2 linked regions of the Homo sapiens genome follow. The protein of the gene in region 2 purifies or fractionates together with the protein of the main gene of each other region. This does not show direct contact. Each region holds a gene or a part of one and is shown on either strand. Other genes may lie near its edges.

Region 1 (3,439 bases), on a different chromosome or scaffold from region 2:
TATGAATGTAACTTGATTTTTTACTATTATAATCTAGATAATATGATATAAGAGGGCTAAGAATTTTTAAATTGAATCATATATATGATATAATTTGATCCTTCTTGTATCTTGAAGTTTTGTACTTGGGATTTCTGGACTGATAAATGAATCATCACATTCTTCTGGTAAATATTTTCTTGGAGCTCTGTGTCAACTTTGATCCTTTGTCTCCCAGGAAGGTGTGACCTCTCCTTTGCCTGCATACCTCAAGGCCAGGGGAATATGCCTCAGTGATGCATTTATCTTTGTATATCAGGCCGCATGATTCCCAACTTTCTGCCACACTTAAATTACGTTCCTCCATTTCAGTTTTGTCTTTTCTGTCTAAAGTTCAGTCAAAGAGTATCAAAAAATTATGTTTCAGCTAGACTGGTGTAATGTATAAGTTTTTGTATCTTGTATTAGAGGATTTCGTAGCTTTTATTAGAGGCTCATTTCCACCTCAGCATACAAGATCGTTAGTCTTTTGGCATGTGTGCCAATTAGAATACTAAAGCAAGTCCAAGCACATTTTTCTCTTCTCACGTTTCTAATAAGTGTTAGGGACTTTGCCTCTTTTACTTACCACGTCCCCAAAAGTGTCAGGTAGACATGTCACAAATGGCTCTGTAGAGAGCCATGGGAAGAGAGAGGAGGTGGATGTGGAACATAAAGGGTTCAGAAACTCCAGAAGAGGAGTGGGTTTTGGATAGAAGCATTTGAGGACAGCTGCTCCAAAGCCTTATGTGTATGATGAAACTTAACCACGGGGAAGAGACTCTTCAGTAGCCTGTTCTGTCTGGTGATTTTTATTTTAAGTGAACCTTTGGATCTATCTTTAACTCTCTTTATTGTGAGTCTAAATTCCAATTCTGCAGCAGATCAGTAAACTCACAGTATTTTTCCTGTGGAAATCTATTCAATAAGGAAACCAAGACAGGATAATAAAATTTAAAAAAAAAACAACTTTGAATTCCCCTGCCTAGGTCTTCCAGTTGTTTTCCAGCGCATACCTCAGGTATGACTTTGCTAGCCGGGGACAAAATTAGCACCTTCCGATTCTCTAGTCCAAATGAACTTTGTGCTAAATAAAAAATTATTATACTACATAATAAAGTTACAGATAGCAGGAAATGCAAGAGCTAGGAGATTCCTAGATTATATCTGCCAAGCAAATACCTTAAACATCCACCTGAAATCCTACTACCCCCTCTTCTGAGATAATTTGCCCAGCCCTTCTCTTCCCACACACTCACTCAATGTCACCCCCTTCTAATCCCCAAAACTGTTTTTGTGGTCTTTGTAGCCTATAGTAGTTTTCTCACATCTTTCCCCCTAGACTTTTCTGTTTTTCAGTTTCAGACAAAAAAACTCTTCAGCTTTTTCCAGTGTGTCTCCTTAACAGTAACTTTACCACTTGAAATCTTATTTCATAGAAAAACTAAATTGGTGTGGAAAGGCTGCACACAATAAAGTTATATTATTATCCATGAAAATGAACTCATATTTCTTTCATACTTTAACGTTAAAACCGAAATGCATGAGAGCAAAAGCACCATGGTGTTCTTTCTATTTAGGGCCTACCTCTAATATTTAAAATCTACCAAAGAGCAGTCACAAAATTAAAACTCAGCCCGGGCGCAGTGGCTCATGCCTGTAATCCCAGCACTTTGGGAGGCCAAGGCAGGAGGATCACCTGAGGTCAGAGTTCAAGACCAGCATGGTCAACATGGTGAAACCCTGTCTCTACAAAAATACAAAAAGCTGGGCATGATGTTGGGTTCCTGTAGTCCCAGCTACTTAGGAGGCTGAGGCAGGAGAATAGCTTGAACCCGGGAGGTGGAGGTTGCAGTGAGCTGAGATCATGCCATTGCACTCCAGCCTGGACGACAGAGTGAGATTCAGTCTCAAAAAAAATTAATACTCAAAGAATTATCTAGCATAATTTAAAAGAAAGGACTTTTTAAAAATTCTCTAGCATAATTCAAAAGAAAGGACTTAACTTTTTTTTTTTTAGTGTGGTCATCCGTCTAGTTGTTCTTTTTTTCCAGATCAGAGCAGAGAATATCACTGACATGCTTGAAATGGTGGATAACTATGTAAATTGTAATTGGACAAATGTACACTTTAGATTTATGGACTGAGCCACATATAATAAGGTCTCTCCTGGTAATTGATCCAGGGGATTTAGGCCTCTTTCGGGTTTTTTGTTTTTTTTTTAGGCATTGTTATGTTGTGAAGGATAAAATCTTCAACATCTTATGCAAATGGATAGTAGGCATGATCCTAAAGGTTTAGTTTTACGATGCTGCAGAGAAGAGAAATGTCTTGACGTTTTGCCACCTGATGTAGACTTTGTCCCCCTCTAGTATAAATGTTGCATGTTACCTAGATAAACAACTAAAAATTGCCTTGAGTTATCACCTGAGCTACTTATGCCAAGGTCTTGCCTTTCTAAAGCTAATAAGGTGAGAGGTGGATATCTGTAGCTCTTCGGATGAAAAATTGCATTGTGGGAGATACCAAAATTGAGGAAATAGCTCTTCAAAGAAAAATTACTGATATGATCATTGTACTTGTAAATGCCTTAAGTAGCAGGCAGTGACTCAATTTTCTACTTTACCATTTTACCTTTAGCTTTTATGTATGAATTATAGGTCTGTGGAGATTCTGCCTCCCCACTAGGCCAGTGTGTGTTTACCATTTATTCATTTTCTATCATACACAGGTGGATTAAAATTTACATTAAAATTTACATTAAAATACCATCATACTTCAGGCTTCTATAACAAAATATCAGACTGGGTGGCTTCAAAAGCAGACATTTCTTACAGTTCTGGAAGCTGGGAAGTCCCACAATCCACATGCTGGTAAATTTGGTTCGTGGTGAGGCCCCTCTTCCTCTTTTACTGACCACATCCCCAAAAGTGTCAGGTAGACATGTTACAAATAGCTCTGTAGAGAGCCATGGGAAGAGACAGGAGGCAGATGTGGAACATAAAGGGTTTAGAAACTTCTGCAGGCAGCAGTGGCAGGGAGCAAGCCCTAGAGTGTCTCTTTTTACGAGAGCAGGAATCCCATCATGAGAGTTCCTTCCTCATGACTTTATCTAAACCCAGTCACCCCCAACAAAGGCCCCACCCCCTAACCCCATCACATTGGCTGTTACGGCTTCAATGTAGGGGATGGGGCACAAACATTCAGTCCATAACGAATACTGATTCCTCAAATAGGGTTTAAACATAGTTAACTGAGCCCCCAAAGAATGTTAAAAGAGAAAATCCATTTTATTTGAATAGATGCAGTGACCACAGCTTCTTCCCTCAAATCAACACATTACAGTTAGATGTCTCCCATCTGAAATTGGATAGCCCACTGAAATTGAACATGCCTTCTCTTATAAATGTGTGGTGAGAAT
Region 2 (3,750 bases):
CAGTCATTTTGACTCCTCTTTTTCTCTTACAGTCCACACCCATTAATTCCATCAGCACATTTTATTGTTTTTGTCTTAAAAATATATCCAGAATCTGACCAACTTCTCACCATTCCCACTGCTACCATCCTGGTCAAGCCTTCACCAGCTCTCACCTGCAATATTGCAGTAACCTCCAAAGAAGTCTCCCTGCTTCTATCATTGCCTCATCCCCCATTATAATCTATTCTCCTATCTCCGAGTGATCTCTTTAAACATAAGCCAAGTCACTTCAAAACCCTGCAATGGCTTTGTTTCCCTCAAGAGTAAAAACCAAAATTCTTCCTATGGCCCTTTGTTCTCTCTCTGACCTTCTCTCGCTACTTTCTCCTTTGGTTACTTTCACTCAAGTCTCTGTATTTTCTAAATGTTCTTCAATAAGATACTGTTTTTTTAATTAATGAAGTTTTAAATGTAAAACTATGAAAGAGTAATCTAATCTGCCATTTTATCCAAATGTTTCCACTATTAGAACACGATTGTATAACAAGTCTGAGAAGAAAAACTAAGTAAATTTATGACAAGAGTTTATGGTGCCCTGAATGTCTACGTACCTAATGAAGACGTTGATACAGAGAAATCGTCTCAAAAAATCAAACGGTATGGTGAAATACCACAAGTTCTGGGTTTGGGATTGAAATATATTTCTTAAATCTTTTATTACTTACTAATTGTGATACCTTGACTAACTCACTATTCTCTGATTCAGTTTTCTTCTGTGTAAAGATGAAGTGGTCTGTAAAACCAAGAAACCTCGTGTTCTATAACAGGAACACCTTTATATAGCTACCCAAAAAAACACCTAAAAAGGCTGACTTATTCCTAAGAGTGTTATTGAACATTCTAGATTAATCTGCATATACAAAAGAATGCCAGAGAAGAAACCAAAATACCAAAAATATTTGGAGCCTGGTTGCGGACTGAATTTTATACAACTTTCAAAGACACTATTTGAGAGGCTGTCGTGTGTAGCCTACTAAGAAAAAACAGAGGGGTGGGGTGGCTCACTCTCTAGGAACCACAAACTTAAGGTTCCTAGAAAGAGCAGAGATTTTAAATATTCAGACTGTGTATGTATCATGACCCAGGGTTGGGGGCAGATGGCCCGGGGTGGCGGGGGAAAGGAGAGATGGCGGAGATCTTCTATCAGGCTATCCTGGGGAACTGCTCCAGGCTGAAACAAACCACCAGTTAGGACGAACCGCCTTTGATGTGAAAGCTGGGAAGCTAGAATGTAGTTTCGCCTTATCCTTAGCGGGTCGGTTCTAACAATTTTGTCACCCAAACTGAACCACTCACCGGGTCAACTGGGCTGCAAGCCCTTATGAGTTGGAGACAAGTGGCCCAGCCCCAACACAGTCAGACAAATCGCTGGGCGGCCATCTGCTCCTGAGACCGTTGCTAGAGAAACAAGACAACATCCAAGTTCTCCACATCATGGTTTTCCGGGCGCCAGCCAAGGCGCTCCGGGGGCGTGGTTACGTGGGCGACGCACGGAGGGGGCGGGTCAGAAACAACCGGGCGGAGGCGCACCCCAGGGCGCATGCGTGCTGTGCGGCGCGGTCTCAGGGAAGGTGGGGCTATGGCAGCTGCTAGGGACCCTCCGGAAGTATCGCTGCGAGAAGCCACCCAGCGAAAATTGCGGAGGTTTTCCGAGCTAAGAGGTACCAGAGAAGGCACCGGAGTTCTCCTGGGCAATGCAGAGGGAGGGTGCTTTTACGTGCCAGGAGGTTTGCTGGACTGTCACTTCCCGTTTACTTCTCATCTGTAGGCCTATGACGCTCCCCAGGAGTAGCTAGCTAATAATCCTTTTGAGTTTTTTATTCTTTTCACTGTCCCTGCTTGACATGCTTGTTGCTTACTTTATTCTTAGTAGTATAGATATTAAAAATGAGGGCGGAGGAAGAAGAAGAAAATCTTACTAGTGAAGTTATGCATTGATTAGCTCATTAATAAAAGTTGCTTTAAATAAATCTAAAAGATACGAAGCACAGTATTTTGAACTTTATGAGTAGATGCCAGCCCCCTATCTACTTCACGCTTTACATTACGTTCATCTACTTCTGTAATGTAACCGTTTGTTGAGGGAGTAACAGAACATGGAGGAATTATGGATTAAAAATTAAAAGGAAGAAATTTGTTATCAAAAAATTGGCTATGACACTTAATCCCTGTACACCTGTCTAATAAAAGTGATTATATTTGTGTTGCAGTGACTGCTTAAAAAATACTGGGACTAATTCTTGGATAACAGTAAAACTTTCAGGACTATTAGATTCTAGCTGACAAGTTCTGTTTGTTAACTAATTAAAATGCTAAATCATTTTGTTTATCAATAAAGAGATTCCAACTGTCTACTAAAAGTGCACACTGTCTTTTAAAGATGTCATCAGAGAGTTGGGACCTTCTGTTATCCAGAATTTTATGTTATATTCTAACAGCCTATGTAAGTTTGCATGGTTCATCTTAAAGTAATAGAAAATAAAGTACCCACATTTATAAACAGCAACATTGAGGGAAGGGATCTTTGGGTTGTGTCTTTCTTAGTCACCTAACACCAAGTGTCCGTGATACATAAGAATTGATTTGCAAAGCTGGAGATTTGTTTATGTTTATCTCCTCTTCTTATTGAAGAATTGAGGCAATAGTCTTTGGCAAGTTAAAAGTCGCTCTCTTAATCAAGAAACATTATGTCATTCAGAATTTATAATTAAATTGGATTGCAAACCATAAAAGGAGGGAGTGATCTAAAAGAAAAAAAAGGAACTTGTGAACAGTCTTCATTATAACTATTTTGAATCGTATTAATGCACCACTAATTATTCCCTAACTTTCAAAAGCCAAAGATACATTTTGGAAGATGATAATGGATATTACCTTCTTTATCATCTTTCTCAATAGGCAAACCTGTGGCAACTAGAAAATTCTGATAATTTTTGTTTTCATTTCCTTGCTTTTTCCAAATAGGCAAACTTGTAGCACGTGGAGAATTCTGGGACATAGTTGCAATAACAGCGGCTGATGAAAAACAGGAACTTGCTTACAACCAACAGCTGTCAGAAAAGCTGAAAAGAAAGGAGTTACCCCTTGGAGTTCAATATCACGTTTTTGTGGATCCTGCTGGAGCCAAAATTGGTACGCGCTTTATGGTCAGTTTTATAATATAGGTCCTAAGCAGAATAATCATTGAAGAAAAGGTTTCTGTGACTTACAGTGTATAAGCTGCATATCTCTACCCACAGCTTTACAAACTTTAAAATTTGAACATAAATTGACTTTTTTTAGAAAGATAAAAGGAATAGCAACTGTTCTTACCCATTATGACTTACCTTGAAAAACTTCCAGAATGTTACTTAAAAGAAAATTTTATTAGTTTTAATGAAATTCACACTATTCAGATAGGAATACTCCTTTGGACCTTATCAGTAGAACCCTTGAGGTCCTCTCCACTCCAGAGTTCCTCCAGCAATTTACATGAAGAAAGCAATTAGTGGGAAAAAATACTCTTGACCTCTTAGGGACATAATGCAGAATGCAAAAGAACACTGTCACATGGCTTAAATATAATACATATATTTGAAAACCCTAGTTTAGGTCAACTTTGCCCTTTGACCGTCCATTGCAAATAGAAATAAATGCTGTTTTTCTGAATGCTCTTTTCTATGTGATACTTAAAGTTGAAGCCCCCTGATACCAGAGATAAGATATCTG

The links. The genes of interacting proteins can lie anywhere in the genome.
Region 1: the proteins of FPGT (region 2) and NLN fractionate together in Homo sapiens (co-fractionation; one large-scale study listed by BioGRID). This does not show direct contact.

What each region holds. Positions count from the first base shown.
Region 1 is NC_000005.10:65,823,171-65,826,609, forward strand, and holds part of NLN (neurolysin, mitochondrial), read left to right. Parts: 3' UTR 1-3,439. UniProt on the Homo sapiens protein: Hydrolyzes oligopeptides such as neurotensin, bradykinin and dynorphin A. Acts as a regulator of cannabinoid signaling pathway by mediating degradation of hemopressin, an antagonist peptide of the cannabinoid receptor CNR1.
Region 2 is NC_000001.11:74,196,658-74,200,407, forward strand, and holds the start of FPGT (fucose-1-phosphate guanylyltransferase), read left to right. Parts: upstream 1-1,584; 5' UTR 1,585-1,621; coding exon 1,622-1,703; intron 1,704-3,006; coding exon 3,007-3,174; intron 3,175-3,750. Other genes in the region: FPGT-TNNI3K fusion protein, read left to right, coding at 1,622-1,703, 3,007-3,174. UniProt on the Homo sapiens protein: Catalyzes the formation of GDP-L-fucose from GTP and L-fucose-1-phosphate. Functions as a salvage pathway to reutilize L-fucose arising from the turnover of glycoproteins and glycolipids.